4 linked regions of the Homo sapiens genome follow. The protein of the gene in region 2 purifies or fractionates together with the protein of the main gene of each other region. This does not show direct contact. Each region holds a gene or a part of one and is shown on either strand. Other genes may lie near its edges. The genes, in order: BCAT2, EEF2KMT, CEP78 and GALC.

What was found.
Region 1: the proteins of EEF2KMT (region 2) and BCAT2 purify together in Homo sapiens (affinity purification with mass spectrometry; 3 studies listed by BioGRID and IntAct, with this or other methods). This does not show direct contact.
Region 3: the proteins of EEF2KMT (region 2) and CEP78 purify together in Homo sapiens (co-immunoprecipitation; 2 studies listed by BioGRID and IntAct, with this or other methods). This does not show direct contact.
Region 4: the proteins of EEF2KMT (region 2) and GALC purify together in Homo sapiens (affinity purification with mass spectrometry; 3 studies listed by BioGRID and IntAct, with this or other methods). This does not show direct contact.

The regions. Positions count from the first base shown.
Region 1 is NC_000019.10:48,801,025-48,808,044, forward strand, and holds part of BCAT2 (branched-chain-amino-acid aminotransferase, mitochondrial isoform a precursor), read right to left. Parts: exon of another isoform or gene 6,345-7,020; intron 6,051-6,344; coding exon 5,976-6,050; intron 5,694-5,975; coding exon 5,493-5,693; intron 1-5,492. UniProt on the Homo sapiens protein: Catalyzes the first reaction in the catabolism of the essential branched chain amino acids leucine, isoleucine, and valine. May also function as a transporter of branched chain alpha-keto acids.
Region 2 is NC_000016.10:5,094,790-5,102,646, forward strand, and holds the start of EEF2KMT (protein-lysine N-methyltransferase EEF2KMT), read right to left. Parts: upstream 3,007-7,857; 5' UTR 2,951-3,006; coding exon 2,855-2,950; intron 2,565-2,854; exon of another isoform or gene 2,491-2,564; intron 726-2,490; coding exon 663-725; intron 1-662. UniProt on the Homo sapiens protein: Catalyzes the trimethylation of eukaryotic elongation factor 2 (EEF2) on 'Lys-525'.
Region 3 is NC_000009.12:78,231,200-78,239,076, reverse strand, and holds the start of CEP78 (centrosomal protein of 78 kDa), read right to left. Parts: upstream 3,003-7,877; 5' UTR 2,727-3,002; coding exon 2,474-2,726; intron 1-2,473. UniProt on the Homo sapiens protein: Centriole wall protein that localizes to mature centrioles and regulates centriole and cilia biogenesis. Involved in centrosome duplication: required for efficient PLK4 centrosomal localization and PLK4-induced overduplication of centrioles.
Region 4 is NC_000014.9:87,983,171-87,990,190, forward strand, and holds part of GALC (galactocerebrosidase isoform a precursor), read right to left. Parts: intron 5,354-7,020; coding exon 5,285-5,353; intron 5,038-5,284; coding exon 4,974-5,037; intron 3,903-4,973; exon of another isoform or gene 3,799-3,902; intron 3,433-3,798; coding exon 3,319-3,432; intron 1,364-3,318; coding exon 1,224-1,363; intron 1-1,223. UniProt on the Homo sapiens protein: Hydrolyzes the galactose ester bonds of glycolipids such as galactosylceramide and galactosylsphingosine.

The sequences.
Region 1 (7,020 bases), on a different chromosome or scaffold from region 2:
TCACCCAGGCTGGAGTGCAGTGGCGTGATCTCTGCTGATTGCAACCTCCGCCTCCCAGGTCCAAGTGATTCTTGTGCCTCGGCCTCCTGGGTAGCTGGGATTACAGGCGCCCACCACCACGCCCAGCTAATTTTTGTATTTTTAGTTGATCCACCCGCCTCAGCCTCCCAAAGTGCTAGGATTACAGGGGTGAGCCACTGCACCCAGCCAGACTTTTTTTTTTTTTCCCATAGTGGGTTTTTGATGAATGAATAGATAAATGAATGGAAGACAAGCAAAACTAGCTACAATATTTTGGGGGGATAAAAACCACCACCACAAAAATGAGGGGCAAGATGGGGCAGGGGCAGGGAGTAGCCATATCAGGTAGTAAAACATTATAAATCTACAATACTTAAAACAGAGTGACACTGCTATATGAGTGGACAGACTGAATAATGGAATAGATAACCAAATATCCATCTAGAGAAAAACTACGTTGAATCTCTATTTCACACCTCACACCAGAAAAAATTCCAGGTGCATTAAAAGTCTAAACAAAATATATATATATATATTACACCATAAAAGCTATAGAAGGAAACAAAAATAACTGTTTTATATCTTGGATTGGGAATTTTATTTTTTATTTTATTTGAGATGGAGTCTCACTCTGTTGCCCAGGCTGAAGTGCTCTATCTTGGCTCACTGCAACCTCTACCTCCCAGGTTCAAGCAATTCTTTTGCCTCAACCTCCCAAGTAGCTGGGATTACAGGTGCCTACAACCACGCCCGGCTAATTTTTGTGTTTTTGGTAGAGACGGGGTTTCACCACGTTGGCCAGGCTGGTCTTGAACTCCTGACCTCAGGTGATGCGCCCACCTCGGCCTCCCAAAGTGCTGGGATTACAGGCGTGAGCCACCACGACTGGACTTTTTTTTTTTTTCCAATTTCTTGTACAGATAGGGTCTTACTATGTTGCCCAGGCTGGTCTTGAACTCCTGAGCTCAAGCAATCCCCCTGCCTCTTCTTCCCAGCCCCAGATGAATTTTTTAAAACCTAACCTGATAGAAAAATCAGCCTAGCAAATGGACAGTTCACACAAAAGGAAATACAGGTGGCCCTTAAGCTCGTGAGAAGATAGTCAATTTCATTAATCACTAGGGAGAAAAATGCAAATTAAAATTAGTTTGAGATACCTTTAAAACCACATGGGAGATTGGAAAAGATCTAAAACTTGGACAAGGGTTGTCCAAGGTATGGAAACAGGCTCTGCTGGTGGGTGTGGAAACTGACACACCCTGTAGATGTAGATGTGGCGATACGTATCAAGATTACAAGCATACATATCCTTTGACCTACAGTTCCCGAAATTGAGCCTCTAGATACATTTGCACTTAAACAAGTGACTAAAGAAGGGACGTGTGTACTGGATTCCTTTTTTTTTTTTTTTTTTTTTTTTGAGATGGAGTCTCACTCTGCCACCCAGGCTGGAGTGCAGTGGCGCAATCTCGGCTCACTGCAACCTCCGCCTCCCGGGTTCAAGCAATTCTCCTGCCTCAGCCTCCCGAGTACCTGGGATTACAGGCACCCGCCACCACACCCAGCTAATTTTTGTATATTTAGTAGAGATGGGGTTTCACCATGTTGGCAAAGCTGGTCTTGAACTCCTGACCTCAGGTGACCCACCTGCCTCAGCCTCCCAAAGTGCTGGGATTGCAGGTGAGCCATCACAGCCGGCCCTGTACTAGATTCTTTATTGCAAAATTGTTTATAATAGACTGGAAACAACCTAAGTGTCCAACAGTAGGGGATTGCCTAAGGAGGTGCATTGTTAGGATGATACAGCATGAGGCTGCAAGAAAGATGGAAAAAGCTCTTTAAGCTTTAAGGTATAGAGAAGAATTTCCAGGCCCAGTATGATGGCTCATACCTGTAACCCCAGAACTGGGAGGCTAAGGTGGGAGAATTGCTTGAAGCCAGGAGTTCGAGACCAGCCTGGGCAACAAAGTGAGATCCTGTCTTTGCACAAGATTTAAAAATTAACTGGGCAAGGTGGTGTGTGCCTGTAGTCCTAGCCACTCGGGAGGCAGAGGCAGGAGGATCACTTGAGCCTAGGAGGCGGAGGTTGCAGTGAGCTGAGACCATGCCACTGCACTCCAGCCTGGGAAACAGAGCAAGACACCGTCTCAAAAACAAAACAAAACAAAACCCAGGTAAAAGAGCCCGGATACACCGGATATAGTGGCTCATGCCTGCAATCCCAGGACTTTGGGAGGCTGAGGCAGGAGGATCACTTGAGCTTAGAAATCTGAGATCACCCTGGGCAACATAACAAGACCCCATCCCTAAAAAAAAATAAAATAAAATAAAAATTAGCTGGGCATGGTGGTGCACACCTGCAGTCCCAGCTACTTGGAAGGCTGACGCAGGTGGATCGCTGGAGCCTGGGAGGTCAAGGCTGCAGTGAGCCAAGATCGTGCCACTGCACTCCAGCCTGGGCTACAGAGCAAGACCCTTTCTCAAAAAAAGAGTCATAACAACAACAACAAAAATGCAGGTGGCCAGGCTTGGTGACTCACGCCTGTAATCCCAGCACTTTGGGAGGCCGAAGCAGGTGGATCACTTGAGCTCAGGAGTTCAAAACCAGCCTGGGTAACATGGTGAAACCCCATCCCTATTATTTAAAGATAATAAATAAACAAATACAGGTAGACAAAGACAGAAAGCAGACTAATGGTTGTCATGGGCTGGGGTGAGGGACAATGGGTACTGATTAATAGGTATGGGGGATTAAACAGTTCTGAACCTTGATGGTGCTGATGGTTGCATAACATTGCCTGCCACTGAATTATGGGCTTTAAAATGGTTGGAGGCTGGGCGCCGTGGCTCACGCCAGTAATCCCAGCCCTTTGGGAGGATGAGGCGGTGGATCATCTGAGGTCGGGAGTTTGAGACCAGCCTGGCCAACGTGGTGAAACCGTGTCTCTACTAAATATACAAAAATTAGCCAATAGTGGTGCATGTCTATAATCCCAGCTACTCAGGAGGCTGAGGCAGGAGAATCACTTGAACCTGGGAGGCAGAGGTTGCAGTGAGCCAAGATTGTGCCACTGCACTCCAGCCTGGGCAACAAGAGTGAAACTCTATCTCATAAATAAATAAACAAACAAACAAACAAATAAAATGGTTGGAATCCCACATTTGATGCTGTGTGTTATTATGTATGCGTATTAGTACCACAATAATAAAAAATAAGGCCAGGCATGGTGGCTCACGCCTGCAATCCCAGCACTTTGGGAGGCTGAGGTGGGCAGATCACTTGAGGCCAGGAGTTCGAAAACAGCCTGGCCAACATGGTGAAACCCTGGCTTTACTAAAAATACAAAAATTAGCCGGGTGTGGTGGCGGGCGCCTGTAATCCCAGCTACTGGGGAGGCTGAGGCAGGAGAATCACTTGAACCCGGGAGGCGGAGGTTGCAGTGAGCGAGATTGTATCATTGCACTCCAACCTGGGGGACAGAGTGAGACTCTGTCTCTAAATAAATAAATAAGAAAAAATAAAATAAAAAATAATACACGTGGTCGGCCTGCAATCCACACATGCCCTGGAGTGTGGGTGACATAGGGACAGCATTGTCCTACTCCCTCATCCTCCCCCTTCCGCCCCCTGGACCCGCGGGATCACAGCAGTGCGTTCTGTCTGCCAGGGCCACAGGCTTCCTCTGCTCTCACTCAGCTGAAGAAAAAGTACTGGGTCCCCAGCCAGAGGACAACTGCTGTGCTGGGCTGAAGGGAGAAGTGTGTGGTGGTCTCCAAGTAACCAGCTTCCTGGGGGCTCAGCAGGCGGAATCCTGCCCATCACGCTTATGTACTGGCAGGAGTGTCTGGCTGTGATTGGAGGTGTGTGTGCTCTGTACAGAATCGACTGGTGTTGCTTAGATGTCCAGAGTGGGAGGGGAGAGGGGAAAAAACAAAACCTTAAAATTCTGGAAAGGAAGGAAGAAAGGAAAAAACAGAGGGAGGGAGGGAAAGGAAAGAAAGGAATGGAATAAAAGTCTTCATGCCACAGAACTGTGCCCTGGAGGACTAAAATCAGCCAACCTGCTAACCAGTTACTGGAGCTGTAAGATGCTCACTTAAATCTTGTCTCAACCAAAGTTTCCTTCTGAAGACCTTGCTTTCAGCCGCAGCTATAAGTCCTAAAACCAAATGCCTCCTGGATCTGTCTCCTAGAAACTTCACAGTATCTCAGGCTCACCAGGTGCCACAAAGCCGCTCCTCCTCCTGGGTCCCCATGTGGGGACAGGCCCAAGGTCTACCTGGTCACCAGCCCGGCTTCCTAGCCTGCAACTCTTGCCCTCCACATGGCCTGAGAGGGCTCTTACTATACCCAGACATGGCCCTGCCCCTCCCTTCCTCAGAGCCCTCAGTGGCTCCCAGCACCCTTGGACAAGGCCCCAGCCCCTCAGCTCCTCCATGGCCCTGACATTTTCAGCCTCCTTAACCATGCTCCAACACCGCAATTTCTCCCAAATGTACCAGGCTCTACTCCCGTTTGGGGTTTGGATTGGCTGTCTCCACTCCTGCCATCCCCCACCGACTGTCCCCCTTCCCGCCATCTCCAACTGTCCCCTCTCCCGCCATCCCCCCTGGGCTGTCTCCTCTCCTGCCATCCCTCCCCCGGCTGGCCCTCTCCCACCATCACTTCCCCGGCTGTCCCTCTCCCGCCATCCCTCCCCCGGCTGTCCCTCTCCTGCCATCCCTCCCCCGGCTGTCCGTCTCCCGCCATCCCTCCCCCGGCTGTCCGTCTCCCGCCATCCCTCCCCTGGCTGTCCCCTCTCCCACCATGCCTCCCCTGGCTGTCCCCTCTCCCGCCATCCCTCCCCTGGCTGTCCCCTCTCCCGCCATCCCTCCCCTGGCTGTCCCCTCTCCCGCCATCCCTCCCCTGGCTGTCCCCTCTCCCGCCATCCCTCCCCTGACTGTCCCCTCTCCCGCCATCCCTCCCCTGGCTGTCCCCTCTCCAGCCATCCCCCTGGCTGTGCCCTCCCCCACCATCTCCCCCCCCAATGGCTGTCCCCTCTCCCGCGATCATCCTGGCTGTCCCTCTCCCGCCAGCCCCCCGGCTGTCCCCTTTCCTACCATCACCCTGTCACCTCTCCCACCATCCCCCTCTAAGCTTCCCTCTATGCCAGAAGAAGCCATGCTTTCTTTCAAGTGAGGCTGGGGGTCTCTACTGGCCTCCACAGGGCCTCCATCAGAGCACAGATCATACTGAGTTATGCCCACAGCATGGGGTTTTCCAAGTGAAGGAACCGGGTCTGCTCATCTCGGGGAACCCAGCATCACCAAGCATGAGCCTGGAGCATGGAAGGCCTCAGAAAACAAATGGTGAATGCACAGAAAGGAGAAACACACAACAAACAAACCAAGAGAGGTACACCTGGCAAGAGACACAGCAAGGAGGAGGAGATGCAGACAGGGACAGGGAGAGAGGCCGGCCGCCATGCCACCTGCAGGGAGTAGTGGAGGCTGGAGGAGGCTGGGTGCAGCGTGAGGTTCTGGAAGGGCTGGATTCGGGGCTGGCCCCAGCCCTTGTCATTCCATTCCACCATCAGCATGTGGTCGGTAAATGTCTTCCCAAACACCAGGGGCTCGCCGGGGCCAGGCTTCTTATGAGGCTTCTGTGTCATTTCCAGCTGCAGGTCTGCAGCCTGAGGAAAGACAGGGGTATCCTAGAATCTGGCCACAACCTCCCAGCTGAAAAACTACAACTCCCATGAAGCCCTGGGCCTCAGACCCATAGAGAAGAAGGACCTGTCACCCTGGAGGATTCTGGGACATGCAGTTTCATCCCTTGTCTGCGGCCCAATGGCAGGCTGTTAAGCTACCACCACTCACTGCCATCTCTGGGCTGTGGACCTTTTGGAGATGCCCAAAACCAGCTGCCAGCCCCCTCCTCTCTCAGAGCCAAGCATCGAGTTCCCTCCTTTCACCTTGAAACTGGAGGAGGCATATCTTCTGGGACCACACAGAAGCCAAGGGACAGAGAGAAGCTTTCGTGCCCAGATCTGGGTGGAGAAAGAAGTGAGAGAGGGGGTGAGTGGGGCACAGCAGGGGCCCTGGCAGCTCGCTCGCCACCTCCTGCACTTGGAGGTCCCACTGGCCTGCCTGTTCTGTCCCAGTTTCAGTCCATTCTAGACGGGGCAGGTGGTCCTGAAGGAGGCCAAGTCCCCTCCCTGCCCTGACGAGGGCTCGCTGGAAAGAGCTGAGTCAGCTCCCGCCCCCTCCTCCATGCTGCGGCAAAGTCAAACGCAAGCGCCTCCCACCCCAGAGACCTTTGGTCGCAGCCTGGAGATCAGCTCAGACAAGAAAACAACCAGGGAAGGCACACAGGTAAGTGAAGGCCTCCGGGTACCCAAGTGCTGACAGGCCTTAGAAGACCAAGGACCGACAGGTCCTGCTCCCCCAGAGCTCAGGGGTGCAGACCCCAGGCCCGCCTCCCTCAGACCTAAGTAAGAGTCCAGACTCTAGCTGCCTCCTCCCTCAGACCCGAAGTCTGGGCCCCCAGCCCCTCCTCCCTCAGACCCTGGAGTCCAGGCCTCAGACCCTCCTCCCTTACATCCAGGAGTACAGGCCCCACCCCTCCTCCCTCAGACCCAGGAGTCCAGTTCCCCAGCCCCTCCTCCGCCAGACCCAGGAGTACAGGTGCTTATTCTCTGAAGGTATTCGATCAACTGGGCTCTGATTACCTGAAATACAAACCCATTTTGGCAGTGACTCCAATTCCCTTCAGCCCCTGGGGCTGAGGGGCAGCTACAGGGGCCTGGGGAGCCACTGCAGTCCTCACTGCATGAGGCTCAGGCGGGTCCTCCCAGAGGGGAGTAGGAAGAGCAGGTCTGGCTGTGTCCAGCAGGCTGGGCCCTCTCTGGTGACCTTTGACCTCACAAGGCCTCTTTCCCCAGCCCTGTGGGGAGGCGTTGGGGCGTGAGGTTGAGAGAGACAGAGTGGCCTGGCCTGGCCTGCCCTGTGAGCTGGGTG
Region 2 (7,857 bases):
GGCTGGGTGGGTGGGGGTGGAGGATATCTGCCTCCTGAGTTTGTATGGAAAATGTATTCTTCTGGTGCACTTCTTTCTGCGAGGGAGTCTATTGCTTGGTCTTTTCAGAAGGGCTCATGGCCCTTCGAACGTGAAGACCCAGGATGCAGGGTGATCTGCACTTGGCCCTCAAGGCCAAGGTCAGGCTGTGGCTGGGCCGGGTGGTGATCCTGCCTCTCACCTGCAGGCAGATGCACTTGAGTCCAAACCCCACCCTGGGCAAAGCAAGGGCCCATTTAGGTCTAGAGGAGACAGGAGTGGGCAGGACAGGCCTCATGAAAGCAAAAAAGAAAGTCTCTGAACATCAACCAAATGCTAGAAGCTGTTTTGCACCTGTCATCTCTGTTTTTGCTGTGGATGGTTTAAAAAACATTCCCTAGATTCCCCCCTCTCATTGCAGGTTTTTGTATATTCTGAAGTCTTTGTCTAAGTCTTAAATAGAAAACGAAAGCGCTGGAGCTGTCAGAGGTGCTGACACCCACCTGCAGTGCTGACTCAATGGTTTTGTTTTTTGAACAGGGGTGTTTTTAAAGGGTACAAGCACACCTGCAGTTCTTCTCTCAGGTCTTCTGGAGAGATTCAGGAGGCAGGGTCATGAGTCCCAGGGACTCTGGGATTCTTACCTTGTGCAAAATATCCCGCAGCAGCTCAGAATCTGATGAGTCTCTTAACTTTGCTTCTAAGCTCTGTGTGGAGGGGAAAGAGAGAAATCTCAAGGGCGCATTCACAGGAACATTAAACACGCAATAGAATGTGTTGGCAAAGCGCTGTGTGATCCCTCCCTGGGGACGTGGAGCCAGTTGGAAGTGGAAGCCACAGCGGCTGAAAGCCTGACATTCAGATGTCGCAGGGTGCACCTGGATGAGTCACAGGAAGAAGGCTGACTTTTGGCCACATTAGTCCTGGCTACTTAGCGGCCACCCGGGTCATGGGCCAGCTCCCTGGTTGCACTGCTCAGCCAGGAATTACCAGGGCAGCCATGGCACCAAGGTTTGATGGGCTTGCCATCTAAGTGGAGATGCAGAATGTGCCCATACCAGCCTGAGTTACATTATCCTCTTACAGGGGCCTCAAGCCCAGCAGCGAGCCTTGGCTCCCGAGTTAGGCAGACTGTCTCGGCTGGTATGTGACACAGGGCAAGGCACTTCATTGCTTCAGAGCTCCCTCCATGCCATAAAAGGCCCTACAAGACCTGGTCCTAATCCCTCTCTCTGGCCTGTTCTCCCTCACCCCTGGCCCACCCTGCTCACTCCACTCCAGCCACACTGGCTGCCTTGGTGTTGTTCCTCAACCACAGCTGGCTTGTTTCCACCACAGGGCCTTTGCATATCCTGTTCCCCAAGCCCTTCCCATGGCTGGCTGCTTCACCACTCAGGCCCCAGTTCAAATGCCACCTCTTTGGGGAAGGCTTCCCTGATTCCCTGACTTTGGTGACTCTTCTTCCCAGTTCCCGCATTCACTATTTCCCTGTTTTATTGGCTTTAAAGCCACTGTCATCTGGTCTTTTCTTGTTTATTTATTTGTTTATTCTCTGGCTCTCCCATGCAAGCAGAGCCTCATCTGTCATGGGTACTGCTGATCCATGGTGCCTGGCTCACAGAAGGCATTTATTAAACATTTTGAGACTGAATAAAAACACTAGCTAACACCAACATGTATTTACCATGAGCCAGGCACTGATCCACAGGCTTTTGTACTCAACCCTGACAACAACCCTAAGAGGTAGGTATCATTATATCCCCCATTTTATTAATAAGAAAACAGCACAGAGAGATGCAGTCACTTGCCCAAGGTCACACAGGGCCAGGGGCTGGGCCAGGATTCGAAGCAGACAGGCTGTCTCCTGGGTCTGAACTCTCAACTACTGCACCCTAATCAAACAATCCCTCTGGTCAAATGTGAGTGGTAATAATAGTACCCACCTCGTGGGTGTTGAGGGTGAGCCCAAGTTAGCATTCAGCGTGGGCATGTGAACAATTACAGTCAATACTGAATGGAGACCTATGATGCTTTTATGAAGGTTTCTATTTTGGGTTAAAAATGCACGAATTTCTCTTGACCAGAAATGATCTCTGAGTGCAAATATTTTATGTCAATGGAATAACGCAAATGATTAAGCAACACCCCATAAAATGGGGCAGACCCAGGGAGGAATATATATCCAAACTCACTCATCCCAGTGAGCTCACCGCACATGAATTACAAATGAGGCCGGGTGCATTAAGCCCCTCTGCTGGCAGAAGGGAGGCTGCTGCCTGCCATGGGCCTGTGCTGAGAATGGCAGGTCCCCAGGGCGAGGAGAGGCCACCCCCTTCTCTGTCTCTTCCATCACAGGCGTGACAGCCTCAGAGCATGAGCCGATTCTGTGCAGTGCTCAACATACAGATGAGAATACTGAGGCACGAGGGACAGCCTGTGACCCGGTCACCGCGCTCAGGAGGACGTGGTTACCTGCGGTCCTGACGGCGCTGACTTTTTAGAATGGGCGAGGGCAGCTGTGTCCCAGTGACCAGAACGATTACTGCCTTTAAAAAGTCGTGAAAATGATCGTGAACTGTACCCCACACCGAGCGCGCGTCTGCCCCCCAAGGCTGTGGAGACGCCCCCAGCTTCCCCCGCCAGCTCGCGGGGCAGGAGGGGTGCGAGCGACTCTGGCCAGGCCCCAGGGACGGGGACCGGGTCGCGCGGCCCTGACCGGCGGGAGCCCAGGAACTCACGTGGCGGGAGCGCCAGGGGCTTCAGCACGGAGACCCGTCCCGTCTGCCCCTGGACTCCCGCGAGCCCCGCGGGCCTCTCCGCTCGCCCCGCCGCCCACCTGCCAGGGGAAGGAGCGCAGTGTGCGTGCCGCCAGGAAGCGGCGCTCGAAACTCTGCAGCAAGAGTTCGGTCCCCGCGTTCTCCTCGGGCGCCATGACGTGGGCGGGGCCGCAGCGTTGCCGGCAGACCGGGCGGAAGCCCGGCCTGGACTGAAGAGGGGGCGGGCCCAGGGCAGTGAGCGGGGGCAGAGAGGGGGCGGGGCCCGGGGGTCCCCCGGGGGTCAGGAGGAACGTCGTGGGGGCGGACTCTAGGGCGGGGCCAGGATGATTGTTATGAGGGCGGGGCCTGGGGTGGGGCCAGGATAAGCGTCGTTGGGGCAGGTCCTGGGTAGGGGGCAGGTCCTGGGTAGAGTCCAGGTTGGCGGGTCCTGGGGCGGGGCCAGGATAGGGCGATCCTGGAAGCTGGGCTTCAGAAGCGTCCAGGTTGGTGGCGTCCTGGAGGCGGGGCCTTGCGTGGGGGCAGGATAAGAGTCCTGGAGGCGGGCATTAGGGCAGGGATAAACGCCATTGGGTTCAGGAGGCGAGACTCGGAGCAGAGCCCAGGAGACAGGTCTTAGGGCGGCGCTAAGGCCAGACCCAGAGAAGAGCTCAGGAGGCGGGGCCGGGGCGGGGCGTTGACTATGTCGTAGCACATGGCCAGGCGGTGCTCGGACTCTGGGAGGCGGAGCTTAGGACGGGCCGACGTGGGGAGGGGCCCAGGGTCCGGGAGGCGGGGCCGAGTCCGGGCTGCGGGCTGCGCTCAGGAGGCGGGCCCTGGGAGGCGGAGCTTAGGGAGGGGCCGGTGTCGGGAGGGACCCAGGGACTGGGAGGCCGGTCGGGGCTGGGCTCAGGGGCCGAGACCTAGCTGGGCTTGGGGCGGGGCCGAGACGGAGCGAGGGGTCCAGGGCGTGGGAAACGGGGAGGGGTTTGAGGAGGGGATCGGAATGTGGCTCAAGTTCGGGAGGCGTTACCTGTGGAGGGTTTGAGGCAGGCCCAGCAGCGAGGCCACGGTCTGCCGACGCGGGGCCAGGGGCGGGCCCCAGGATCCGGAGCTTAGGGCGGGGCCGAGTCCGGGTTTGGGGACCGGGAGGCGGGGCCGGTTAGGGCGAGGGTCCCTGGGATCGTCGGGTCAGGCCTTGGGCCAACGTAGGCACTCTCGCAGTTCCTCCGCCTTCAGGAAGGTCTTTTTGGCAGGGGCCCTACGGGTGCGCGCTTCGGTCCTGGAGGCCTTATCCAAGCCTCCTCTCCATCAGCGCCACCCGTCTGGGGTCCGAAAGGAGGGAGCTTTCCCTCTGTCCCCCAGCCTTTGGACTGTCACCAAACAAGCCATTCGTTCACCAAATACTTATTAAGCGCCTACCAGGTACCTGACAAGGGAGATGTAACGGTGAGAAAAACTAGGTGTGGTCCAGGCCCTCCAGGGGCTCAGGGGCTCGTGGAAGAAGTGGACATTGAAGTATTTATCACACAAATGAGTATAAAAGTACAATAGCGATATCTGCCACGAAGGCGAGCAGACAGAGCTAGCGGGGCTTGCAGGAGGAGTTTTGATCTTGCAGGGACAGGAAGGAGGAGTTAGCTCCTGCGGGGTGGGATTGGGGGTGGTGGTGATATAGACGTGGGGACAGAGTGGAAAACAACAAAAATATAATTAATTTAGTTCAAAGTTATTGTGTCTTGAGTTGAAAGGCAGGGCAGTTAGCAACACAGTTCAGATTTCAGTACTGCCCCTGAAATCTGAACTGTGTTCAAAGTCTAAAACGTTTACCTTAGCAAATCCCTCATAAAACTCCATTTGGAAGAGTCCCGAGAGCTAATTTGTAAAGTATACTTGCAGAAGGTAGATGAGGAGACAGATTAAATCTTATTACCTCTTTCAGATGAGAGGCTCTTGAGCCCTGCTCAGCTATGAGAATAAGAGGGGAATTAATTCTAATAGAATACACTTGTTCTCGCATAGCTGTTGTTCCCCACCAGAACCAAATGAGCTCAAGATCTGACAAAGAAAAAAAAAAAGGTTCATCTTTTATTCCCCCAAACACTTTCATTTAAATCAAGAGGGTGGGATGTGGTTATTGCTGTGTTTTTAGACAGAATCAACAGTTTCTGGGTCTGAGATATTGCATACACCCTCTCAGTCCCTGTATCCTGAGATAGAGTCACCTGATAATCCACAGCAAGTCCTAACCAGGGATGGGTCTGGGTGCTTAAGGAAGGTTGGCTTCAGAACTGGGCCAGGGGCACTGCTTTGCTTTTGCTGTTTTGATCAGCTCTCTGCCTGCAGGAGACAAGGAAAACCAATGGTAACAAGTTAGTTACACTCATAAATCCTGGGCTTATTTTATTAACTCACATAATAGCTATTAATTGCCTTTCCTCCAAGGAGCAAAAGGGCATATACGGTCAATGCTGTAATAAGTAACACTGTATTATGTTATACTAAAATATTAATAAATCTAGGTTGGTTCAGTCTTTCCTGATTCCATAGATTGCAAGCAGATTGAGGAAGGACCCTAGCAGACCACAGAGCTGAGCCATGAGCACAGAAGAAATCTTTTTTTCTTTTTTTTTTTTTTGAGACGGAGTTTCGTTCTCTTGTTGCCCAGGCTGGAGTGCAATGGCGCAATCTCGGCTCACTGCAACCTCTACCTCCCGGGTTCAACCGATTCTCCTGCTTCAGCCTCCCGAGTAGCTGGGATTACAGGCGTGAGCCACCATGCCGGGCCATTTTTGTATTTTTAGTGGAGACAGGGTTTTAACACGTTGGCCAGGCTGGTCTCAAATTCCTGACCGCAGGTGATCCGCCCGCCTCTGTCTCCCAAAGTGCTGGGATTACAGGCGTGAACCACCGCGCCTGGCCAGAAGAAATCTTTATCTTGGTGTGCGGGTTCAGATGAGGGACAAATGTCATCTCTCTTGGATCTGAATCTGGAAGGATCAAGGCACTGAAGGGATTTTTTTTGTTTCAGAGAGTCTAGAGTCTCCCTCTGTCGCCAGGCTGGAGTGCAGCGGCACGATCTCGGCTTCTGCAAATTCTGCCTCCCGGGCTCAAGCGATTCTCCTGCCTTAGCCTCCGGAGTAGCTGGGACTACAGGCACGCGTCCCCATGCCCGGCTAATTTTTGTATTTTTAGTAGAGACGGGGTTTCACCATGTTGGTCAGGATGGTCTCAATCTCTTGACCTCATGATCCATCTGCCTTGGCCTCCCAAAGGGCTGGGATTACAGGCGTGAGCCACCATGCCCGGCCTCACTGAAGGGATTTTTTTAATGTCACGTGGCTGTCACAGGTGCGGTGTGTTCGGGTGCAAGTGAAGATTAGGACTGATGCTTAAAAACAAACGTGAAATTCCAGGCGGTGTTGCTACGGGGAGCAGCATCAGGACAAGCTGGTTTCAGTTGCAAGAGTTTGCGTGTACGTGCAAGAACTACAGTCGAGATTCAACTTCCGGCTTTGAGGGTCTCTTTAATAACAGTAATAACAACCTAAGGCAGTTTAACAGTATGGAATGGTTGCCTTTTAGAAGTTAAGCTATGGGCATGGAAGTTCAATCAGTCCATTGAAGTTTTTCCTTTATCTCTCCTATGGTTAATGGTTTCTGCAGAAAAGGACCAATTGATTTCTTTCTAAAACGTTGCTTCAGGGTGTAGAGACCTTTATAGGTCATGTTTCAACTTACAGAAAATTTTATAGTTCAAATATAAATTACGTTCAATGTGGACTTTGCAATAGAATTGAAGGTTAAGTAAAGTTTCCACTTTCCTTAGGCTGTTTGCAGTGCCCAGCAGGCCCCATGATATCGAGGTGGAAGTTATGTTAAAGGAGGAGGTTGGTCAGGGATGGGTAGAATAAGGAATATGCGCAGCTCAGGCTAATGATGCAATGACTGAGGTGTAGAAAGAGGGCCAGGCACGGGATAACGCCTGTAATCTCAGTGCTTTGGGAGGCCAAGGCAAGAGGATCACTTGAGGTCAGGAGACCAGCCTGGTCAACAGAGTGAGCAGAGTGAGACCTAACCTGTACAAAAAAACCACAAAAAACCAAAAAAATTAGTTGGGCATGATGGTGTGCGCCTGTAGTCTCAGCCACTTGGAAGGCTGAGGTCAAGGGATCCCTTGAGCCCAGGAGTTTGAGGCTGTAGTGAGCTATAATCACATAACTGTACTCCAGCCTGGGTGACAGGGTGAGGCCCTGACTCAAAAAAAATTGAGTCAGGGAAAAAATTGGAAATCTTAATCCTCCGTACCCAGGAATGTGACCTTATTTGGAAATAGGGTCTTTCTAGATGTAATCAAGTAATGATGAATCGTACTGGATTGGGGGCTGCTGGTGAGGAGGCAGATGCAATGACCGGCGTCCTGATAAAAGAAGAGAATGAGGGCCGGGCATGGTGGCTCATGCCTGTAATCTCAGCACACTTTGGGAGGGTGAGGTGGGTGGATCACTTGAGGTCAGGAGTTCGAGACCAGCCTGGCCAACATGGTGAAACTCCATCTCTACTAAAAACACAAAATTAGCACTGCGTGGTGGCGGGCGCCCGTAATCCCAGCTACTCAGGAGGCTGAGGCGGGAGAATCACCGGAACCTAGGAGGCGGAGGTTACAGTGAGCCAAGATTGTGCCAGTGCACTTCAGCCTGGGTGACAGAGGGAAACTCCATCTCAAAAAAATAAAAGAGGAGAATGTCAGGTGAAGACAGAGACACAGGGAGAAGGCAGCCATGTGATGAGGGAGGAGAGATGGGAGCGATGCATCTACAAGGAACACCAAGCATTACCAGCGGCCACCAGAAGCCAGAAGAGGCAAGGAAGTATTCTCTCTTACATATTTCAGAGGAAGCGAAGCCCGGCCGACACCTTGATTTTGGGCTTCTGGCATCCAGGCCTGCGAGACAATACATTTCTGTTGTTTTCAGTCACATGCGGGGCCCTTGTTGTGTTGTGGTTTTTTTTTTTTTTGGAGATGGAGTTTCACTCTTGTGCCCCAAGCCGGAGTACAATGGCGCGACCTTGGCTCTCTGCAACC
Region 3 (7,877 bases), on a different chromosome or scaffold from region 2:
CTAGTAGGCTAGCCTTGACTCTGAGGTCCCTCCCATCTTTAATTTATTTTGGTTCCTGGTTTTTTTATTTTTTGTAGGGGGAGGGTCATGGACAGGGTCTTGCTCTGTCACCCAGGCTGGAGTACAGTGGCAAAATCATGGCTCACTGCAGCCTCAACCTCCCGGGCTCAAGAGATCCACCAAGCCCAGCTAATATTTTTTACTTTTTGTAGAGACAGGAGTCTCACTATGTTGCCCAGGCCAGTCACAAACTCCTGGCCTCCCAAAGTGTTAGGATTACCAGTGTGAGCCACCGCACCTGGCCTGGTTCCTGATATTATTTTGGTTAACTAAAGTCCATTCAGAGGTACAGAACAGTTCCTGCACCTGAATGAGATGTAGAGAATAATCTGACTTATTTTCAGAAGCAGATGTGTTGAACTGTCCTTGCAGAAGAGATGGTGCTAACCCCAGAGCCTAGAAAAGGGCCGGGCACACGACAAGTGGTCAGGTTGTTTTTAAATACATCAATAATCATTTCCTCTCCCAGATCGCACACCCTCCCTCTTTCTCTCAGCTTATAAACATGTTCACGTCCATATCCACTTAAAAAACACCTTTCAGACCTACAATTATCTGGATCTTCTTTGTGGGTAATCTAGGTCCCTCCCATGCCTTCAAATACCTGTCCTCCCACAAAGCCTAAATCTTGGGCCCAGATCTGCCTAGCAGACACATTTGGATGCCCCACAGGCCCCTCTTAAAACATTAAAGACAAACTGAGATCCTCCTCCCACCCCCAATCTCATTCGAGTTAACTCGGCTGTGTCATGGAAAGACGCTGCTGTGTTTCACTTACAGACGCTGCTGTAAACTGTCACCCATACTTGCTGCCCCCCTCTTCTAACTAGTCACCACGCCCATCCATTCTCTTAGATATCTGAAATCCTACCCTTCTTTTTTTTTTTTTTTGAGACAGAGTTTTGCTCTTGTTGCCCAGGCTGGAGTGCAACGGTGCAATCTCAGCTCACTGCGACCTCCACCTTCTGGGTTCAAGCAACTCTCGTGCCTCAGCCTCCCAAGTAGCTGGGATTACAGGTGCCCGCCACCACGCCCGGCTAATTTTTTTTTTTTTTTTTTTTGTATTTTTAGTACAGATGGGGTTTCACCATGTTGGTGAGCCTGGTCTCGAACTCCTGACCTCAGGTGATCCACACCCCCCCGCCTTGGCCTCCCAAAGTGCTGGGATTACAGGCATAAGCCACGGTGCCCGGCCCCAGCCCTTCTTTTCTATACCTTAGTTTGGGCCATTAGATTACAATTCACCATCCTTCCAATTTTAATTTGTCTTCCATATGGAGGCTAGACTGAGCTCCTACGGAAATTCCATCTCATCATCCTACAGCGGTTTCCCAAAACCTTCAGGATAAACATCCAACTCTATGACAGGACAAACGAGGACCCTCCCTGTTTGGCCCCCACAAGGTTTCCAGCCTCAACTCTCTCTGCTCTTTCTCAAACCTAAATTCCAGTCCTGTAACTCAGCTTGCATACTCTCTCCTATTTCCAAAACTTTTGCACAAACTGTTCCTTCCTGTTACCTAGCTAGCGTCTATAGGAAGCTGCCTCCATTATGTAGAAAATGCTAAGTGCTCAAAGGAATAACAGCATTTTGTCATATATCATAGTTGACCTAACATATTTTCCGAATAATCAGAGAGTCTGGATCCCTAATTATACCACTATACATTTACAAATGGCTTGTATTTGTAAAGCACTTTACAAACTTCTTATATACACCTTAAAAAATGAAGACAGGCCGGGCGCGGTGGCTCATGCCTGTAATCCCAGCACTTTGGAAGGCCGAAGCGGGCGGATCACCTGAGGTCAGGAGTTCGAGACCAGCCTGGCTAACATGGTGAAACCCCATCTCTACTAAAAATACAAAAATTAGCCGGGCATGGTGGCGCGCGCCTGTAATCCCAGCTACTCGGGAGGTTGAGGCAGGAGAATCACTTGAACCCGGGAGGCGGAGGTTGCAGTGAGCCGAGATCTTGCCACTGCATTCCAGCCTGGGCGACAGAGTGAAACAGTGTCTCAAAAAAAAAAAAAAAAAAAAAAAAAAAAAGACAAAGGCTGACATGTATTAATTTCCTACCTGCTTAGTTCTCTATCAGGCAAATCAAAGTCATTCAATAAAATAGGTAACATCTGTCAAATGTTTAATGATGTCCCAAACTGTGCTAAGAGCTCTGCAGGCATCAGCAGCGCAGGGAATCCTTGCGAAGGCGCACATAACCTGGGTCTCGTTATTAAGCCCATGTTACGGATGAGCACACTGAAGCCCTAGAGACCTTAAGCCACTCACCTAGCTCGTGAGTGTCCAGGCCGCACACCCCTTCTATTGCACACATACCCCGACAATGGACACCACTCACCTAAAAACCCACTTCGCCGCACCGACTGAGGGGCCCTGGAGGCGGGAACTACAAACCTGTGTCCCCCAGCCAGGGCTGGAAGAAGCTCTTGATGGAGACCAAGGGCAGGTCTTTATTGATCTTGAGGGTGCTCAGCAGAGGCGCCCAGTCCACCCCGCGGAGGCGGTCGGCGTTGAAATCCAGCACGCCCTCCCGGAGACAGGCGCGCACGGCGGGCAGCGGCACCGAGTTCTGCAGCGCGCACAGGTACTCGTAGTGGGAGAAGAAGTCCGCCGCGCTGTCGCGGCGCAGCTTCACGGAGTCGATCATGGCCCGAGGGCGGCCTCGGGGGATGCCCGCCGCGGAGACGCCGCCCGCGCCCACCCAAGAACGCTGAGTCGCAACCCGGCCGCTCCGGCACCCACGGCCAGGCGATAGCGGCAGCCCCGCACCGGGCTCAGGAGCGGTGATTCGGTCGGAAGACGCAAGGCCAGAGCCCCAAGCTAGGCCGGCCCCTCAACGCCCCACTCCCGCGCTGCCTCCCGCCCTGCGGCCCAAGCAGTTGGCGCCCGCCTCATAGTCCTCTGAGGCGCCGGGATTCAAGCCGGTGGGCGGTGCCGTGGAACGGTGCGCCAAGACGTCAACGTGCTCGCTGTGCGTCGGCACGCAGGTCCCGCCTCCTGAGGACGGGTGAGTTCGCTGCTACCTGAGATAGTGGTCGGGAGAGTTTGAGGGTTTGCGAAAGAGTTTACTGATCGATCCGAATAAAAGTGAAATGTGTGGTCGGGCGCGGTGGCCCACGCCTGTAATCCCAGCACTGTGTGAGGCGGGGGCGAGCGGATCACCTGGGGTCAGGAGTTCGAGACCAGCCTGGCCAACATGGCGAAACCCCGTCTCAATTAAAAATACAAACATTAGCCGGGCATGGTGGCGGGCGCCTGTAATCCCAGCTACTCGCCTGTAATCCCAGCTGAGGAAGGAAAATCGCTAGAACCCGGGAGGCGGAGGCTGCAGTGAGCCGAGATCTTGCCATTGCACTCCAGCCTGGGCGACAAGAGCGAAACTCCGTCTCAAAAAAAGAAAGAAAATAAAAAGTGAAATGTGGATGTAACAACGCACTTTTAAAAAAAGTCTAAACATCTGAGGAATGTGTCTGTGCTTGCAGTGTCCAGCCAGCACAGAGACTGCACTCAAGGGATGTGGGAACGGCTGATTGAACGTGAACTGCGGTCATTAAATCTTTTATGTCTGTGTTAATATCTACAAATAAGCCTTAATTTCTGTAGTTTCTGCATATCTCACACGGTTCCTGGCAAATTGAAGAGTGTTTCATGAATTCAGGACTTTATTGTGTTTGCTGTGAATCAGTTTGTTTTGTACTGACGATGATGTTGGCTAACTCCCTTGTAACTAGTACTTATTTGAAATAATGTCCTCGGGATTATTTTAAGCAATGTTTAAGTATGAAATCATTTCATTCTCCTAACATCTCAAGGAATATACTATTATATTCTACTTTACAAAAGGGGAAACTGAGGAACGGGGAAGTTAAGTGGAAGCTAAGTGGAAGAATCCAGATAATTGACCTCTCCTTCTATTGGTATGCAATTGCTAGAGCAATGATAGTCCTCCGGTAGAGCCTTAGACATTGTGTTTATTGCATTCCTGTTCCACCCACTGCATTCCGGATACTCCAACTTACTTCCAACACACATATGCAGGCGTCTCTAAAATTCCGGAGATATGGTCACCAATTATTTTTATGTGCGACATGCTCAAATCTTAATATAGTAAACGCTTGTATATTCATAAACCAGCTTAATAAATGAAACATTACCATTCCTGTTGAAGAGCTTTGTGTAACCACCTTCCCAATCACGACTACTCTCTGACTCTGAGATAACTGCTCTTCTGAACTTGGTATTCATCGTTGCAATGTATGTCTTTATATTTCTGCTACATATGTAAGTAAGCAGTATATAACATTCTATATTTTCTTTTCCTACTTTACTTATCGTTACCTTTACTAGGTCCATCCGTGTTGACATATAGAGATATTCATTTATTTTCCCTGTTGTTATATGGGAGTTCCATGTAGAAACATACAGTAATGTGTCTGTTTTTCTGTTGATGGTAATTTAAATTGTTTCCAACTTTACGATTTCTTTGTTGCTCTATCCATTTTCTTTCTAGTCTCCAGCATCAATTAATGTAGTGTCCATTACCTTTTTAAAGCTCCCTCCTCCCTGTTTCCCATGAAGCCACCTGATTTCTTTTTCTTTACCTCTCGAATTTCTTCTTCTCAGTCTCATTCTTTGGCTTCTCTTGCATATCCACTCTAAATATTGCTGTTCGTCAGGTTTCTACCCTCAGCTTTCACCCCTTCTGACATTTTACAGTTTCTCTGGGTGTTCTTGTCTTCTGCTCAGCCTTAACTTCCCCACTCTAGGCAGATTACTTCTAACACAGATAGATCTCTTCATCCATTAAATTGCCCCCTAGAAAGCCAAGATTTCTCACTGCCCTCAGTGTCAGATCTATGTCACGTAGCTTGACATACAAGCTCCTTCATAATTTGACTATCTCTGTTGTCTCTCTCCTTGCTACATTCTTCCTGGCATGTCTTCTCTAGATACACAGAACTGCTTGAACTTTCTGATGTCCTATTGTTGCTGTCTGGGTCTTTTCATAGGCTGCTCCTTTATTTAGTCGGCTAACTTCCATTCTTTTCCCAGCCTTGGTTTGGGGCACCTTCCCTAGAAAGCCTGTTTCTCTCTAACCCTCATCTCTCCTCCCTTGCTTGTTTAGCACCTCACTGCTGTGCTCCCTGACATCCCTGTAGCATAACACTTAGAACATCCAATGATAAACATCTTTTTAGATGGTTTTCCTTCCAGAGTCTGAAAGCCCTTTGAAGGCAAGAACCATGTCTCATTCATGCTTACATTCCCTATGCCTAGCACAGTGTTAGCACAGAGAAAGTGCTAACTAATGACTAATTGTAGGAACATTCTTCCCTATTATCCCCGCAAGCTATTGCCAGCACCCTGTAGCCACTGCCTATGAATGCAGCTCAGAGAAGTCTTCCTCATATTAATAATCATTTAACATATTCATTTAAAATTTATGTTTCCTGTGCTTACTTATTTTTAGTGTGGCAAGATTTCTTTCAAGGCTTGCCTGATAATCTCTTCTCTGCTTCAGTTAAATTATGACTTAATAGTTGCTTCAAAAAAAGAATGGCTCCAGTTCTCCTTTCAGCATCTGGTGGGTTCACCCACACACTTCCCTGAACACTGAATGAAAACTGTCTCTCTGTGGCACCTCTGGGATCCTCTGACAAACCAGGCTCACACCTGGCCCAAGACAAAATGCCTTGGCTTCATTGCAGGTGCATGACTTGGGAGGGACGTTCTACTGGGTGGTATAAGAGATGAGCTCTCCTCCTTCAGGGGATCTGGTGAGTGAGTGTTTGAGTAGAATACAGGTAAATGGTATCATTTAAGCACTTGTTCACTGTACTCTACTCCCAGTCAATCCAGACTGTTATACCCCGACTTCCTAGCCCACTTACCTTTCCATAGAACCACAATGCCATATCATCTGCTTATCTCTAACATTCATCCTCTCTGTACTTGCTTCCAGAGCAGTGAGGTTTGATGGATCCAGGCACAGAGCAATGTCAACCTGGCCAACAACATAAGCTGTCTTATGTTAACGGATGTGTGGTCCCCATTTCTTTTTCCCATTACCTTCCTTGTGGCTACTCACAGTGGTTGTTCCAATTCCTTCTCCTTCTTTCTTTTCATGTTGCTGCTTGATATGGTTTGGCTGTGTCCCCACACTTTACCTAGAATTGTAATAATCCCCACATGTCAAGGGCAGAGCCAGGTGGAAATAATTGAATCATGGGGGTGGTTCCCCCCATACTGTTCTTGTGAAAGTGAATAAGTCTCACGAGACCTGATGGTTTTATAAATCGGAGTTCCCCTGCTCAAGCTCTCTTGCCTGCCGCATGTAAGACGTGCCTTTGCTTCTCCTTTGCCGTCTGCCATGATTGTGAGGCCTCCCCAGCCATGTGGAACTGTGAGTCCATTAAACCTCTTTCCTTTATAAATTATCTAGTCTCAAGTATGTCTTTATTAGCAGCATGAGAACAGACTAATACACCATAACACTTCATTCTACATCCCTGAACAGGACACCTCTTACTTCATCAGGGAAAACAGTTCCAAATGTAAACTTTCTTGTCTTCTTTCTTCTGACTTCAGCTGCCTTCCAATCCATGCTCCACACTGCAGCCGCCACCACCTCCTCTGCAAATCCTTCTATGACTTCCCTTTGCTCTCGGGATAAAGACAAACTTCACAATGGTCTCAAATAGTGCTCCACTCAATGTGGAGTCCACAGACTAGCTATTGATTTTAGAACTGTTACTGTTCTTATAAGATGAGGAGCTCAATTCAGAATGTAAATCACACATGCACTAAACATACTGCTTAGATTTTTTTCATGAAAAGAGCAGTGTATTGCGTTACATTCTAGAACAAGCTCCTTATCTCATTGTCCAGTGGCACTTTGAGTAGCACTAGTCTCCAGGGTGCTGCATCCTCAGGGCATGATGGAGTATGATCTCTGCAGCTTTGTCTTGTGTCCTAGTCTCTTTCATTCTCAGCAGTCCAGCCTATAGTAGTCTCCTTTCAGGCCTGCACACTTAGAATAAACCACTGTCCATGCTGTCCGCTCTGCATGAGATGTCCTTCCCTTCATTCTGCACCTAATTAGTGCCTCCGCATCTTCTCATCTCAGCTCATGTGTCACTTTGTTGAGGAAGCATTTCCTCCCTCCCTGACTCATCACATCCCCTATCATAAGCTCTCATAATACCACGTAACTCTTGTTGATAGCCTTCATTCTATTTCGCATTCATTTTGAAATAAATGTTTACCATATGGTCCTTGAGGAAGGGATCGTGTCTGTTTTGCTTATTCTGTTGTTTTTGTTTTGTTTTTATTTTTTCCGAGACGGAGTCTTGCTCTGTCACCCAGGCTGGAGTGCAGTGGGGTGATCTCGGCTCACTGCAACCTCTGCCTCCCGGGTTCAAGCAATTCTCCTGTCTCAGCCTCCCGAGTAGCTGGGATTACAGGTGCAAGCCACCACGCTCGGCTGATTTTTGTATTTTTAGTAGAGATGGGGTTTTGCCATGTTGGCCAGGCTGGTCTCGAACTCCTGGCCTCGTGATCTGCCCACCTCAGCCTTGCAAAGTGCTGTGATTACAGGTGTGAGCCACCATGCCTGGCCTGAGCCACCACACCCTGCCACTTATTCTTGCATCCCCAGTAGCTAGCCCAATTCCTGACAATATTTGTTAAATGAATAAATGGATGTATCCAACCAATGACCAAGACTTCACAGTTTATCCTTTGTAGCATCTCTCATACTCTTCTTCCCTTCCTTCTATTTGCATTGCCATTATTCAGT
Region 4 (7,020 bases), on a different chromosome or scaffold from region 2:
CTAATAAAAAGAAAAAAAAACTAGCTGGGTGTGGTGGCGGGTGCCTGTAATCCCAGCTACTTGAGGCAGGAGAATCACTTGAACCCAGGAGGCAGAGGTTGCAGTGAGCCAAGATCACAACACTGCACTCCAATCCGGGTGACAGTGTAAAAAAAAAAGGAAAGTTCTCAAATATAAACTAATTTTTCAGTCATAATTTGGAAAAGGATAGCAAAAACTAGTATATTCTTTCTTCTGACTTCCTCCAGCCCTTGGCTCATCCTCATGCCCTGTATCATCATGTAGTATTACAGTTTATATGTTCCAGCATCTACTTCTCTTACTGAACACAAGAGCTTATTAATCTTAGTAGCCCTCAAATATTACAGTCACAGTTCCTGCAACACAGTAGGAACTCAATAATTGTTTGCTGATAATCTAAGTCATGATTGCATGAAAATGTTTAAGTATTAGTTTTAACTGATGGTATATTAATAAGCAAATGATTATGGAGACCCACTATGTGTGTGTTAAGGCCCTGTGGGGTACGATGCAGCCTGGGGCATGCCTCCACCCAGCCAAGAGACAAGCTGGACATGATATCATTTTTCATACTTTTCAAATCCTTAAAAGGTGTTAACTAACAGTTTGTGACAGGTGAACGCAGATTTCAGCCAGCCTGCCAAATCTGGCCCATCATCTGTAATTTTACAACTTGAGAGCTAAAAGTGTTTTTAGTTTTAAATAGTTACATTTTAAATGGCTATATATTTACCTCAAGATCCTCAATATTGCCTTTTGGCCCACAAACCCAAAACTATTTATGCTCTGGCCCTTTAATAAAAAGTTTGCCAATCTTTGGCTTAAGACAACAAGAGGATAAAATGAGACTAACCCCCCATAAGCTGTATAGGAAACACAACACTGTTGTAGGAACCAGAGAAAGCAGGGAAAGCTTTGAAGGAGAATTTGAGTTGGGTTGATACAAAAAAAAAAAAAAAAAACCCAGCTCAGAGGAAGGAGGTATACACTCAACACAGTTTTCAAAAGTGGGAACACTGGGATGGGCAAAGGGGAGCAATTAAAGGTCACAGGTACTTAGTTTGTGTTATTATCAGACACCATTAGAACAAATTAGCCTCATGGCATAAAATGGTTAGTCAAAAAGTACCACAGAATCAAATTATTTTCTAAATTACAAACAAATGTCCAAAACTGAATCATATTTTAAATATATTACTAACTCCAATATAATCAATGTCCAAATCATGGTAACGCTTGGCGCCCACAATCCAGGTCACGACATAATAGGCAGTCAGCTGAAGATTGACATAAGGCCAGTCGAAACCTTTTCCCAGCCATCCAGGGAATGACCATGGCAACCCTGCAGAGAGAAGGGAGGAGGCAAAGGTAGAGGAGGTATAACGGTGCTGGCGCTATTGAAAATAAAACAAATTTTTTTTAAGAAAAGCATTCAACTAGCAAAAAACCAATACAGATCTGACTAAAGGAAAGTTTATATACCATATAAAAATTATTGAAATCCTTTCCAATCTATAGACACTATAATTCCTTATTGATCCCTAGAGTCAGGTCCCATAATTTCAAATGTTCTTTCCAAGAAGAAGAAAAATAACAAATACAAACACCTCTCTCCAAGACCCTTACCAATAGAAAGAAATGTACCATATGTTTTAACTTAACATGTCCACTCACTGTTGGAATGTTCAATATTCAACTTCTGTTCTTTGAGGTCAAATCAAAGAATTCTAAAAGGCTTATGCCAAACTACTCTTGAGTTATGTATAACACAAATTTATCATTCAATTGTACATCTTCTTACAATTTAGGGTCCTTAAAATATTAATCAGTCAGGCAATCTAATTTAGCAAAACTAGTTTGTTCTTATATCACTATAAATGACAATGACTCCATAGAGAAATATACCCTTGTTAAGTGATACACATCAAATAAGTCCATATTCTTCCAATAATCCTGATTATGTTTAAGTAAAAAAATAAGAAGAGTAGAAAAGTACTTATTATAATTCTAAATTTAACTTGCTACTAATATATTAAAATAGGCTCAATAGTTAAGTTCCTCAGCAATAAATATATTACCAAACTAGTTCACCACTGAAAAAAATAAAAATCAAAATGACAAAATGCTTATTTTCTAAACTCAGGAGGAACACCCAAGTGTATTACATAAGAAATGTGACATTAAAGTAATAGAATTCTTGAAAACAATGAAATGCTAAATGCAATCTGAAGGCCTACCAAGTCTTTGTTAGGACATGGTTTAGCATGCCATATTTTCTACATTTAAATGAGGTCTGACCTTGGAAGCAGTCTAGTGGATATGTGCTGAATTCAGTGATGCTTTTACTGCTCACAGCATTTCTGGAATCTCTTACAAAAGCCCATTTATAAAGAACATACTTACTCCTAATTTCTTTTAACTTAGAAAATATTACTTTTCATTAACCTGATTGTTGAGAAAATTATTTTTTAAATAACTAGAAATCAGGTCTTTAAAATGAATCATTAATTTCATTTAACTTAGTTTGAATTTAAGCCTGTTTCAAAAAATCAAATTCATTTCAAATGATGAAAGTATCCCATCACTCTTGATGTTTGAAATACTTCACAAGCTCTGTACACATTCTCACAGAACTGTGAAATGTACATAGTCCCATTTAAGCAACTAGCCAATGATCCTCCCAATAGAACCTAAGCCCCACAGGTGCAGGAATTGGGGACGGGATTGGCTTCCTGAGTCCCAGAACAGTAACCAGCACATTATTGAAGTTCAAAAACTAACTAATAAACAAAAAACACTTTTGTATGTACCTTTTCTAAAAATAGGGTTCACTACTACATGCAATATACAATTTTGTAACTAGTTAGGTGTACTACTGCATGTAATATACATTTTTGTGAACAGTGTTACCCTTTTATAAATACTGATGACAGATCTTGTGAAGGAAAGTAGTTTAGCATCATAGGAAACATGGAATTAGGTGCTAACACCGATTTTGCCATTTACTAACTGTCTATGACCTTAGGTCAGTGGCATAATCTTCCTAAGCTTCTACTGCTTCTTCCTGGAAAATGGAAAGAGTCATGCCTTACTCCACAGGTATTATAAGGATTCAACATAATATACAAGGGCAAAGAAAGGATCACCCCTGGCACATGCTTTGCTGCTGGTAGCATACTGGTAGCATTAATGACATTATGAGTACTTCCGTATTAATAGAGATTCCACCAACACGATTCAGAATTTAAAAGTTAAAGGAAAAGAGACTGAAGAAACATTGCAAACTTCATTTCTTACCAATGAGTGTAATATTGGGATTCCTCTTCTTAGCTTCTTTCATCAACCACCACTCGTATCCTCGGAAATAATTCTCATCTAGTGCATAATGCATGTGGGAGGGCTCAGTGCCGTCTGAATAGAGGAGAGCAAAAACGGAAGTAATGATCCATGAATGGTACTTCCTAGGACCATCTCACTCCCCACCCCCACCCCAGACACACACTTCACAAAAGCAGTATTCCAGTTCTAATCCTGAAGTTGGGGAAATCATAATCTTACACAACTAAAGGATGGATGATAAAAGCATATCATTTCATCCTTTTTTTATTATCTTAAGCATTGTAAAAGTCTTAATAAAACCACAACCTTCTATTACAAGCAGTACTGAGAGAAATGTTATCACCTCATATAACTAAAAATTCCCAGTATTCATGCTTCTGGGCTTTTGATCTCTCTGTAGTTTTCAAATCCCCATGTCCAACTTTAAGTTCTGATTACCTCAACTTTCAGCTTTTCAACGCTGGATATGAATCCCTGGACTCGTGAGCCCTGTTCTCAGAACCCACACCTTTAGCCTATAATATGTCTTGATATAGGAAGAGTTTTGAGGAAAAAAAAAGGAATGAGTATACATATCCACTCTAAAAATAACAAAATTCTATACTAACATCTGCAGTTAGTAGAGGTTACATTGTCTTAGCACTGAGGTAGGTAATTGCTATCAAAGTCCTCGTATATTCCCACAGTTCACCAACATCTGCCCTTGCTAAGTAGGGCCTTCCGAGAGGCCCTTGCCCATTTCTTCTTAAAGGTAAACATCAGAATTCACAAGAACTGCCTGTTTATGTACCTCTACCTCTAATTTAGCTTCAGCAAGTGAAATTAGTCCATCATTGTCAATTCTGCCTAAAAGGTTTTAACAGTAAAACGCAATAGCTTGAAGAAAGTTTCTGTTATGGGGGTTTCTTTTGTTTTTGCTTTGCACTTTTTCTTCAACATAAACACTAATACCACCACATAGACATATCTGTTCAACAAAGAGTTACTTCCAAATCACTAGCAGGAATACAAGTAATACTCTAGAGTTCATTATAATGGAATCTGTTCTGTAAATAATAAGCTATATCTAATCATAGAGAGAATTTCTTTTCTTCTTCCTGGAAACAAAAGGCCTATAAACTGCCAGTTGATAACATGGACTACATAAAGCCAATCAAAATAGTGACAATGAAGACTGAAGATTTAGTGATTAAAGATAAGTTTTGTTTTTAAAAGAAAAAAAAGCTGTATCATTTTTACCACATATTTTAAGTTAATAACACTTTTTTTGTTCTATACGAAATTAAAATCTTTCTAACTGCTCAATAAAATTCAAAACTGTCCCTATGCTCTGTCCTGTATATATAGGTTTTAGAAAACTGTGGATTTGTTTACTACCGATTACTTCAACTAAATAAGCAATTTGAAGTTTGAATATTGTTTTTGATGGACCAGTCATATTCTATATAATATTTTTAAATAATTACAGTTAAAAAATGAGGAAAACTCTAATAAGCAACAATCAATCTCAAAAGTGTTGGTATTGTTTACACATATTCTGAAATCACAGTCCATATGCTGAGGTATAGATTAAAATGTTGATGGGAGAAATCCTATCTCCCAAATTCTCCTACCTGTTGTCTGCCCATCACCACCTATTTCCACTTTTAAAATATGCAAAGAGGCACCAAAATTCGGCTGTGAAAAGAAGTAACAGTATTAACATAGTGTTGTATTGTATGAAGCTTCAAGACAATTACTAATTACTGCCTTAGGTTTTACAGACGCAAAAACAAAAGCAAAACTTCAAATAGCAATTTATTCCAAAAGTAATGTGCCATTTTTTCAAAAACTAGAATTGTGAGGCTAATAAATTCTATGGTGAAATTCACCATCCAATTTCTAAAATATCACAGGTACCATGAAATAATTATGTTTTCATTACCTTAAAGAGATAATCCAATATCTGAGAACGATAGGGCTCTGGGTAATTTACTAGAAGTCGGGAGGTTGCCTAAAAAAAAAAGTTTTCAAAAGTATGAATAAAAGAAATCCAGTCATGAATATCTGTCTACAGTGTTCACGCACACCACCTGGTATACACATATTTAGCCTCAGGCAAGGTCAGGCTGAGGAAAAGTTCCTCACAAGTTGTCTGTCTGCCCTTTCTGTGCCAATCATTGGGCAAGTAGGGCTGCTGTCTGTCCGACAGCTAAAAAAGTTCTCTTCTTCTGGCATGAGGGCTAACTGGGAGGTAAGCTTGCTAACCTCATGATCACAAACTTATCTTGAAACTCAGGTTTTCTATCTTGAGACCACTTGACAACAATATCTCAGGACTAAAATGGGAGGGATGAATGTCAGGTAATTTTTCCCCTTAACATCTTCCGGAAAAACATCACAAGCAGCAATGCTGAAAGGAAGCACTACTTTCCCCATCCTCATAAATTCTACCTGTTACTATTAAGAATAACTAGCAATAATCTCCAGACCAGGCTGTACTAAGAAAACTTAACACAAGAGTGGCATCAGAATGCATGGAAAGACAAGGGTAGACAGCGCAGGGACCAATACTGGATCATGCCTGGACCACGGCATACAACTATTTGAAAAAAGAAATCACAAAACCAGTAACTGACCCATAATCTATCCTTTGGGAGGCAATATAAGCAAAAAATAAATAAAAAGAGGCCGGTTTTTGGCATGAAACAGTAGCCTCAGGCTTGTAAACCAGACAGTCCTAGGTTCAAACTGCTGACACTTTGCCAGGTGTATGTATGATGGTTGGGACAAAATACTTTTATGGGGTTCAACTTTCTATTTTATATTCTCATATATGCTACCACTGACATTCTGGTAAGTGCCCATATCTACTCTGTCACACCCAAAACATCCCCAGTCCCTACCAGTGAGGCAAACACCCATGGAGCTGCTCTCTAGCCACTCTTTCCATCTACCTCAATATATCCCAAACCAAACATAGCACTTTTGCATGTATCTGCTCCTTTTCCTGAACTTGCTGTCTCAGTAACCAACACTTGCCGAAACCATAAACTTGGGCCACCTTTTGTCCAAACTTCCCATGTACCCTCAGTCACCAAGATATCCTCAATAGCTCTCAAATCCCTCCTCTACTCTTCAACCCCACTGACTTACCCAGGCCCTCCTCACTTATGAGAACAGTATAAGTGGTCTCAGGACATCCCTTCTGCCTCTCCCTGTATTCTATCTTCCATGCTACTTACGAGAGTAACCTTCCCAAAATACAAATGTAATCACGAAACTCTTCCATGTAAACATGCTAAGACCGTCCCTTTCCCAAAAGCTTTCAGGATAAAGTTCAAATCGCTCAATTTTGCACCCAAATCCCTTAATTATTTGGCTCCTAACCCTGATACTTTATCCCTTATCACTCTCACACCTTCTACCTAGATGTATCAAACAACGTTTTCTATTCTTATGCCTGGAATGCACCCCACATCCTCTCTTGGACAACTCCAATTCACCTTTCAGCTCAAATTCCACCTCTGGAATTTGAAGGAAGGATGCCTTCTGGCCCTGCTCACTGATTTGATGTAAGCGCCTCTCCTTTGGCACCAGGTCCATATCTTTATTACAACACTTTGAACCCCGGCACTCCTTTATTTTTCTGACTCACCTCTTAGTTCCTTAAGGACATGG